2 separate regions of the Homo sapiens genome follow, and region 1 is linked to region 2. The links come from fine-mapping of genetic effects on gene expression. A gene starts in region 2. The other region holds a variant in brackets. All regions are shown on one strand. Distances are from middle to middle.

Region 1 (5,332 bases), 27 kb before region 2:
TTATACACTAGGTTATAACTTATTCACATATATAAGCTTATTATCATAATAAGAAAAGGTTTATATATTTTGGGTTTTCTTGTTTTAATAAAATAAATGTGCTAAGGTTCCTTTTTAATACTTTTTGGGAATATGTTTTGATGACAGTAGAAAATATTCAACATTAATTCACTAAACAACCAAAGAAGTAAAATTTTGATACTACCTCCAAAGTTAAAGATAGCAGGCATATCTTAACTACTTCCCAAAAAGACTAGGGAGTTAGGTAAAAGAGTGAAGGCATTTGAGGATTTTTCAAGTTCCAGATGACCAGACAGAAACTGTAAGCCATTGGCTACAGAATGAATGATAGCAAACACTAAGGTTTTTATGCACTAGACAGTGTATGTAAACACTTACTTATCACAGCTCCTGATATGAGCTGTTAACCAATAAATGAGTTCCATTCAGGCATTATAAACTACTAGATCCTTAAGGCAATTCCTATTTTATGGTTTTAGGCAAATACTTATAGATACAGCAATATAAATGTTAGTTTCCTAGATTTGGCAACTGCTAAAAACAGTCTTCAGAACTACATTAGATGCTAATGATAGAACTACAAAGACTAATTTTAAAGTGCATATCAGGAGATAATAAATCCTGCAGAAGCCTTAGCCTCTGTACATATAATCATAGGTTAACAGTTTTACAAATTCACGAACATTAAATTAATATGGAACAATCTAAAAAAAAAACACTCTTTAAGATGCATCCAGTTTCTTATAGGCTTCTTCAATGAAGGTTGACATGCTCTTCATCTGTGATGAATTATGAAGAATATCCAAGTCCTTTAGAAGAGCATTCTGGTTTGGAATTAGCGCCAAAATTTCTTTCTGTGGGAAAGATAGTATTAAATGTAGTTGTTAACATTTTATTATGAGAAATCTCAAATGTATGTTAGAGAGAACAGTAAAATAAACCTTAAGTATCTATCATCCAACTTCAATAATTGTCAACGAATCGCCATTCTTCTTTCAAATCTATCTCTCCCTCTCCCCATCCTGCTCCTTTCACCACTGGTAAATGATAGGATTTGTTTGTTTGTTTGTTTTTGTTTTTTTGAGGTGGAGTTTTGCTCTTCTTGCCCAGGCTGGAGTACAATGGCGCAGTCCTGGCTCACTGCAACCTCCAGCTCCCAGGTTCAAGCAATTCTCCTGCCTCAGCCTCCCGAATAGCTGGGATTACAGGCATGTGCCACCACACCTGGCTAATTTTGTATTTTTAGTAGAGATGGGGTTTCTCCATGTTGGTCAGGCTGTTCTCGAACTCCTGACCTCAGGCAATCCGCCTGCCTTGGCCTCCCAAAGTGCTGGGATTACAGGTGTGAGCCACTGTGCCCAGCCAATAGGAAAATTTCAAATTACTTCTTGAGAAAACATGAAGACTTTCCAATGCTACAAACATTTATACTACAATGTCTACTAGAGCCCTTGGAAGAAATAGTTTACTACAAATAAGACAGTACTATTTTATAAGGAGTTATATGCTATTGTTAGAAGCATTAAAAAAACCAAACTGTCAGTATTTACTTCTAGAAATGTATCCTACAATTATGACTATACAAATCAGTAAAGACATATGTACAAGGGTGTACCCAGTCTTACCTGTATTAAAAAAATTATGTATTTCCATCAGTAATTTACAAATTATATGACCTCCATACAACAGAATGTTACATAGCTATCAACAAAAATGAGAGATCTACGTGACTGACAAGATGTTCAAACTATACAGTCGAATGAGAAAAGTAATTTGCCAAACAGTTTATATCAGGTTCCATTTGTTTAAAGAACGAAATAGGACATAATGTTTTCATATATGTAATGTATAATTGGTCTATGATATACCAGGATGCCTCATTTTACCGTGTTCCCAGACACTGCATTTTTTACAAACTGAAGGTTTGTGGCAACTCTGTGCAAAGGAGGTCTATCAGCACCATTTTTCCAAAAGCACATGCTCACTTTGTATCTCTACATCACATTTTGGTAATTCTTGTAATAGTTCAAACTTTAAAAATTATTACGGTATCTGTTATGGTGATCTATGCCCAGTGTTCTTTGATGGAACTGCTGTAATTGTTCTGGGTGCCATAACTGCAACCATATCAAACAGTGAACTGAATTGGTAATTGTTATGTGTTCTGACGGCTCCACCAACCGGCCATTTATTTCCCAGTTTCTCTCCCTCTCCTTGGGCCTCCCTATTCCCTGTGACACAACGATATTGAAATTAGGCCAGTTAATAATGCTACAATGGCCTCTAAGTGTTCAGGTGAAAAGAAGAATCATGTCTCTTACTTTAAATCAAAAACTAGAGATTACTAAGTTTAGTGAGGAAGGCCTATCAAAAGCCACGCAAACCAAAAGCTAGGCCTCTTGTGCCAAACGCCCAAGTTGTGAATGCAAAGGAAAAGTTCTTGAAGAAAATTTAAAGTGCTACTTCAGTGAATACATGAATAATGAGAAAGCAAAACAGCCTTATTGTTGATATGGGAAGTCTGAGTGGTCTGGATGGAAGATCAAACCAGCCACGACATTCCCTTAAACCAAATCCTAATCCACAGCAAGGCCCTAACTGTTTTCAAGTCTATGAAGGCTGACAGAGGTGAGGAAGTTGCAGAAGAAAAGTTTGAAGCTAGCAGAAGTTAGTTCATAAGGTTTAAGGAAAGAAGCTGTGTTTATAACATAAAAAGTGCAAGGTGAAGCAGCAAGTGCTGATAGAAAAATTACAGCTAGTTACCCAGAAGACCTAGCTAGCTAAGATCACTG[G/C]TGAAGGTGGCTATAGTAAACAACATATTTTCAATGTAAATAAAACAGCATTCTATTGGAAGAAGATGCTATCTCTAGGACTTTGATAGTTGGAAAAGAGAAGGCAATGCCTGGCTTCAAAGCTTTAAAGGAGATGCTTTTGTTAGGCTCTTGTTAGGGGCTAATGCAGCTGGTGACATGAAGTTGAAGCCAATGCTCACTGATCATTCTGAAAATCCCAGGGTCCTTAATTCTACTAAATCAACTACATCTGTGTTGTCTGTGCTCTGTAAATGGAACAACAAAGCCTGGATGACAGTACAACTGTTTAGAGCATGGCTTACTGAATATTTTAAGCCCACTGTTAAGAGCTACTGCTCAGAAAAGAAGATTCCTTTGAAAATATTACTGCTCATTGAAAATGTTCACAGTTACCCAAGAGCTCTGATGAAGATATACAAGGAGATTAATGTTGTTTTCACATCTGCTAACACATCTGTTCTGCAGCCTCTGAATCAAAGAGTCATTTCAATTTTCAAGTCTTATCACTTAAGAAATACATTTCATAAGGCTATAGCTGCCCTAGGTAGTGATTTCTCTGATGGATCTGGGCAAAATAAATTGTAAACATATTAAAATAAATTTATCATTCTAGATGTCAGTAAGAGCATTCATGATTCACAAGAGGAAGTCAAAATACCAATAACAGGAGTTTAGAAAAAATGGATTCAATTTTGAATCCTCATGGATGACTTTGAGAAGTTCAAGACTTTAGTGGAGGAAGTGACTGAAGATGTGGTGGAAACAGCAAGAGAACCAGAATTAGAAGTGGAGCCTGAAGATGTACCTGAATTGCTGCAATCTCATGATAAAAATTGGATGGACGAGGAGTTACTTCTTATGGATGAGCAAAGAAAGTGGTTTCTTGAGATGGAATCTATTCATGATGAAGATGTTATGAACATAGTTGAAATATCAATGAAGGATATAGTATATGACAAAAACTTAGCTGACAAAGCTGTGACAAGGAATGAGAGAACTGACTCCAATTTTGAAGGAGGTTCTACTGTGGGTAAAATGCTATGAAACAGCATCACATGCTACAGGGAAAACTTTCGTGAAAGGAAGAATCAACTGATGTGGCAAATTTCATTGTCTTCTTATTTTAAGAAATTGCCACATGCATCCCAACCTTCAGTAATCACCACGCTATCAGTCAGCAGCCATCAACATTGAGGCAAGACCCTCCACTGGCAAAAAGATTACGACCTGCTGAAGGTGCAGATGATTGTTAACATTTTTTAGCAGTAAAGCGTTTTCTAAATTAAGGTATGTCCCTTTAAAAAAAAAAAAAAGAAATAATGCTTTTTCACACTTACTAGACTACAGTATAGCGTAAACATAACTTCCATATGCCGTGGGAAACCAAAACATTTGTGTGACTTGCGTTATTGCAGTATTTGCTTTTTTGCTGTGGTCTGAATCCAAATTTGCAACATCTCTAAAGTATGCCTGTAATCAATATGGTAAATAGGCACTTACCTGAAGTGTGGGTGCTTTGAGAGTTTTCTGAGAAAGTTCCGGAAGAGAGAGTACTCCACTACTATTTATTTGATGCATCTAAAGTAGAAGAAAGCTACAGATTATTTCAAAAAGCTGATTTCTCTCATCATATTATACTCGAAAGTTATCTTTGCATAATTTAACCATTAAAAATTATATCCAAATTCCAATAATACAGTTTAAAATAATTACCTGTTTTACTCTCTCCTCTTCTTCTTCCACCTCACTTGCCAGAATCTGAATTTTGTTCTTTAGGCTCTGAATATTCCCAGTCATTAACTCTGTGGTCTCTACCATTTTATCTATTTCTTCCTGAGTCAGAAAGAGAAAAAAAACATTTTAACTTAAACACATTATTATATTAAATCCTAATAGATATTGTTATACATACACATTTTAAAAAAACACCATATATATTTAAAACATTTTTAGAAGCAACTGGTGAATTTACTTTTGTTTCTTTCAAAAAAGAGACTTCTTGGAAAGCTGGTATGTCAAGGTATTAATGTGTTATAAGGATATCTAATTTCCCTGGAATAAGGAGATGTACATGAACACTTCCTCAAAACGTACCAATGCTGGTAGGGTCAGAGATCCTGGAAGATCCAAGTGTAAATCTAGCAGAGCCCAGAACTGATGACAACAAATACAGCAACCTTCCTTAAGCAGCATAAAACTTCATGTAGTGGAGAAATTCTGAATTGTTTTCATTTATTTAGGAACATTTAAGAGCCTGCTATTTTAATTTGTCAAAAGGAAGTAATGTTGGGCATTAGAGCAGGGAGAATAAAAAAAAAGAGTAACAGTTTCCCACATTAAAGGAATACATAATTTAGAGAGGAAGATGAAAAGAAAATAAGAAATGAATAAAACAAGTATGGGGACAACACATCAAGGATGTGTTGTGTGCAGGCCAAGTATAAAATTAAAATTAGCAAGCCTCCAGGTTTCTAAAGGGTATTAAACATGGCACTGCT
Region 2 (5,389 bases):
CAAAGACGAATTCATGGCAAGGTCTTAACTCACTTCAATTCTATGAAAGCTGAGAGAGGTGAGAAAGCTGTAGCAAAAGAGCCTGAAGCTAGCAGAGCTTGGTTCCTGAGGTTTAAGGAAGTAAGCTATCTGCATAACATGAAAGTACAAAGTGAAGCAGCAAGTGCTGATGCAGAAGCTGCAGCAAGTTATCCAGTTCTAGGTAAGATAATTGATGAAGGGGCTACACTAAACAACAGATTTTCAATGAAGACAAAACAGCCTTCTATTGGAAGATGCTATCTAGGACTTTCATATCTAGAAAGAAGTCATTGCCTGGCTTCAAAGCTTCAAAAGACAGGCTGACTCTCTTGTAGGGGCTAATATGGGTGGTGACTTGAAGCCAATGCTCATTGACCATTCTGAAATATCCTAGGGCTCTTATTCTTTTAAATCTACTCTGTCTGTGCTCTGGAAATGGAAGAACAAAGCATGAGTGACAGCACATCTGTTTACAGCACGGTTTACTGAGTATTTTAAGCCCATCTTTGAGACCTACAGCTCACAAAAAGATTCCTTTCAAAATAATACTGCTCAATGACCACGTACTTGGTCACCCAAGAGCTCTGATAGAGATGTACAAGGAGATTAATGCTGTTTTCATGTCTGCTAACACAACATCCATTCTGCAGCCCATGAATCAAAGAATAATTTTGACTTTCAAGTTATATTATTTAAGAAATACATTTTGTAAAGCTATAGCTGCCCTAGACAGTGATTCCTCTGATGGATCTGGGCAAAATAAATTGAAAACTTCTGGAAATGATTCACCATCCCAAATGCTAGTAAGAACATTCATGATTCACGGGAGGAGGTCAAAATATCAACATTAACAGGAGTCTGGAAAAAGTTGATTCCAACCCTCATGGATGACTTTGTAAAGGTCATGACTTTGTTCAAGACTTCAGTGGAGGAAGTGATGAAAGATCTGGTGGCAATAGCAAGAGAAATAGTGGAGCCTGAAGATGTACCTGAATTGCTGCAATCTCATGATAAAACTAGTGGAAAAGAAGTTGCTTCTTATGAATGAGCGAAGTTCTTGAGATGGAATCTACCCCTGGTGAAGATGCTGTGAATATTCTTGAAATATCAACAAAGAATTCAGAATATCACAAAACCTTAGTTGCTAAAGCAATGGTAGGGGTTAAGAGGATTTACTCTAATTTTGAAAGAAGTTCTACAGTGGGTAAAATGCTTTCAAACAGCATCACATGCTACAGAGAAATCTTTAGTGAATGGAAGAGTCAACTGCTGTACAAAATTCATTATTTTGTTATTTTAAGAAACTGCCACAGCAACTCCAATCTTCAGCAACCATCACCCTGATTGGTCAACAGCCATCAACATCAAGCAAGACCCTCCACCAGCAAAAAGATTAGGACTTGCTGAAGGCTGAGATGATTAGTAGCATTTTTTAGCAATAAAATATTTTAAAATTACAGCATGTAATTTTTTTTTACACATAATGCTATTGCACACTTAATAGGTTACAATACAGTGTAAATACAACTGTTATATGCACTGGGAAACCAAAAAAATCGTGTGACAGGCTTTATTGGTCTGGAACCGACCCCGCAATATCTCGGAAGTATGTTTGTACATTATTCATAGAAAAAGTATTATTCTAATAACATTTTGAAATATTTAGCCAAAAAGTAGAAAAATGAAGCATCCAAGGGAAAACAGTAAAACTCGGACGGCAGGAAAGCTCGGAAAAAACACAAAAAACCTGGCGTGTTCAGGGACAGGATAATCCAGCGAGGCTTTTAATGTGTATAGGAGAAGTGAAAAGAAATAAGGCTGGTACAGTAGTTTGCCGCCAGACTATATGCTTTAGGAGAGAGGGAGGCATTCTAGGTTGTCTTGTTTTTCTTACCAGCTTGTTGATACTCATGGGACTCAATTACCTCAATTTAGACCTCTATGTGGGCACAAGAGTGAGTAGGACTCCTGGAGAAACACAGACACTAATGTCCAAGGCTGCACTTGACTTCACTAGTGCCCGCGGGAGAAATTTAGCAATGAGGATGAGCCATGAGGATGATTCGGGAGAAATAGGAAGTATTCATGGCTTTGCTCCCTCCCCCCTAATCAAACATCTCAATCTCAGGATCCTAAGGGCAGATCTTTTAGGACATCGGGCATTTCCCCGTAAGCAATCCCCCCTCGCTATCCTCAAATGCAAACTGCGGAGTCTGCCACAAACGCGTTGGCTTTAAAACTCATCCCTGAACTTTAGATCCACCCAGCCGGTTAAGGATATCACGACTCACCACTGATTCTTCTTGCACCCTTCTGAGAGCCGCGCTTAGAGTAATTCGCGCCCAAACATTCGTAAACAGAGGAGACCCGGAAGTGGGTGGGAAGAAAGCGGAAACGGGCATCTAACCCTACCCCTAAACGTCATCAGGAATGCGCCCATGAGAGCGCTATTAGATTGGCTGGAGGGAGGGCGGTGTCGGCCTACGCCCCCAGAGTCGTCCGGCTGACGCTGGCGGTGGCGCGGTTTGTGTGGGCTTGGTGAGGGCGGGGAGGCCTGGCTGTGTGGATGTCTGACAGGTGAGGCGGGGGACGCAGAAGTGCAGCCGCCCTCTCCCACAGCGGAGTCCAAAACAGGCCTACCAGTGAGTAGGACGTACACCTTTCAGATCGCTCCATTCTTCTGGCTCCTGTCCCTCCTCTACCCCTGTATTTTGAACTTTTGTCCTTTCTCTCCCGCTCTGTCCTTTACTTCTGTCTTCTTTACCTTCCTACTGTGACGGGATCCCACTCTCTGCCTTCTCCTTAGGTTTAGATTTTCACTTCGACCAACCTCTAGTTTTGGGCGAAGTCCCTGGCAATTCGGAGGTACTTCTGGAAAGAAGGTGCTTTTAATACTTTAGGGGCCATGTCGGTATCTTCTTTGGCCACTTAAGCACCCTGAACTGTTCCCGTTGGCAGAGGTCACTTTTTGTATGGTTCCAAAGGGATGCGCCTGCTTCATGGCTGCCTCCCTTCTAGGTTGTGGGTTATGTTATTGTCAGGGTTTTTCTAAGAGTTTTCGGGAATAAAAGTGATTTTCTGTGTGTAAACAGGATTAAGAGTGTAAACAGTGTTAAGAGTGAGAGGTAGAATAGAAAAGACAGGTCTAAATTGACATAAAAGCTTACATTACTAACTCGTTCTCAGTTTTATCTAGAAAGAAGGTGGTCTTAGGGAAGCTCGAAGCCCTGGATAACGTATGTGTGTAAAGTTTTAAACCACTTGATGATTTTCTGCCAATATAATTTTGTGTTTAATGATGTACTTATGCTAATATCAAATATAATTTTCATGCCCTATGTTTCCATCTCCAAACCCAACTAGTTGAACATCAAAGTACCTTCTTGAAGTATTAATGTGCAATCATACGTCAGCAGCCAAAGCTTGAAACTTATTGGTTCAAGAAATCTTTTTCTCACTGATTTGTTTTTGAGGTGTGGGGGTGGGATTAATCATTGCTCTTTAACTCATTTTAGTTGTCAGTAACATATTTGCTTTGCATGTTGCTTCTTTGAATGCTTGAGGCCTCTCTTGATGGTCTTCTGAGAAAATTCAGAGGTCGTATTGCCATCCGCAGTAGTTGTGTTTTTATCTAAAAATGGTGTCTGTTTCCAGCCTCCACCAATTCACATGTGATTTTCAGGAAGTCACTTAAACGGGGCTCTTTCCTATTAGTTGTTCAGATTTAGGAAAGCCCACGTGAAATGAGTGTGATATTTCCTGCCAACAGTTTAGTCTCAGGTGGTTTTCAAATTACCTTTTACAGGATTACTATTGAAACAGTTTAGTTGTTGCTTCATTATTTTTTTCATCCACCTTTTAAGCTAGTAAATGTAGTGGATGGCTTGCAAAAAGATGGATGACAAGGACCCCATGGATTTAAAGAATAAAAATCGTGCTAGTATTAAAAAAATGGAAGGTTTTTTTGTTTTGTTTTGAGACGGGGTCTCTCTCTGTTGCCCAGGTTGGAGTGCAGTGGCACGATCTCTGCTCACTGCAACCTCTGCTTCCCGGGTTGAAGTGATTCTCATGCCTCAGCCTCCTGAGTACCTGGGATTACTGGTGTGCGCCACCATGCCCAGCTAATTTTTGTATTTTTAGTAGAGACTGGGTTTCACCGTGTTGGCCAGGCTGGTCTTGAACCCCTGACCTCAGGTGATCCACCTGCCTCGGCCTCCTGAAGTGCTGGGATTCCAGGCGTGAACCACCATGCCCAGCCTTTTTTGTTATGTTTCCATTTAGACTTTGTTCTATGTACTTTTTACATAGTTGAACCTGTTGCACTTACAATTACGTGTCTTGAGTCTTTTACTTACTACTTTTTGAGTTTGTTTCTCTTTTTTTGGGAAACTATGCATAACACATTTTTAACTTTTTACTTATACATATATTTACAGAAACTGCATAAAACATAACTGTATAATTTGATGAATTTCCACAAACAGAATATATCTATGTAAGTGGCAATCAGATCAAGACCATTACCCCCAAAAGCCCCTCTCTTGCTCCTGTTGTATTCTAGCAACCATTAAGTAACCATTCTTCTGACTTCTGACATCAAAGATTAGTTTTGCCAGCTTTCTAAACATATTTTGATAACTACATGAAATTCTATCATTTGTATATGCTGTAATTCACTTATTCATATGTTATGAGATACTTACGATTTTCCTAAGTTTTCTCTATTACAAATAAAACTATAGGAAACATCTATTTTATATATTACTACAGAAGCTTTCCCAGGAGTAATGTTCCTCAGTGGAATGGCATAAACATTTCTGAAGCATTTCATGTATATTGACAATTTACTTTCCAAAGTAGTTAAAATAGTTAATACTGTCACCAGTGGTTTATGTCTCTTGTTTAACGACCCCATAATAAGTGTTGAGTATTGATTTCATTTAAGCTTTACTAAACTGATAGGTAAGAAGTGGTATGGAAAATAAAATTTGAAACTCCCTTTACTTGTTGCCTTATCCAGTATAAAACACATAGTATAGTGAATATATTAATGTTTGCATCTCAATATCTTTTTAAACAATGGGCTCTATATGTTTACGCTGTATGACTCTGACAAGTTTTAGTAATTCAGGTAAACAGTTTACGGCTTTGTGAGGTGGGATTTTGATCAAGCGACTTTATTTCTCTGAGCCTCAGTTTCTACATCTGGAAAATGATGACGCTGAACCCAGCAACCTAGTATAAAAGTCTATGCTAGTTATCCGGAATATGCAGCTCTAATGTTGGAGCAGTTTATAAACTAGCACAGAAGTAGATTATTGAAGAGGCCATTTAGCTCACCTTATGGGTTCTGGGATGAATTGTGTGC

The links. PIP is the estimated chance that this variant, and not a neighbour inherited with it, causes the effect.
Region 1: its variant is fine-mapped to the expression of CENPQ in whole blood (INTERVAL, PIP 0.99).

The regions. Positions count from the first base shown.
Region 1 is chr6:49,487,687-49,493,018 of GRCh38, reverse strand. It overlaps CENPQ (centromere protein Q), which reads right to left. Exons shown (of 9, transcript NM_018132.4): 7 at 4,548-4,667; 8 at 4,335-4,412; 9 at 1-875. The coding sequence ends at 744. Among named protein-coding and RNA genes, the nearest start is that of GLYATL3, 9.6 kb to the left of the region's middle. The variant G/C (reference allele first, on the strand shown) is at 2,814.
Region 2 is chr6:49,460,377-49,465,765 of GRCh38, reverse strand. It overlaps CENPQ (centromere protein Q), which reads right to left and starts at 2,396. Exons shown (of 9, transcript NM_018132.4): 1 at 2,313-2,396. It overlaps MMUT (methylmalonyl-CoA mutase), which reads left to right and starts at 2,513. Exons shown (of 13, transcript NM_000255.4): 1 at 2,513-2,663. RefSeq lists enhancers at 1,530-2,429, 2,774-2,843, 2,430-3,330.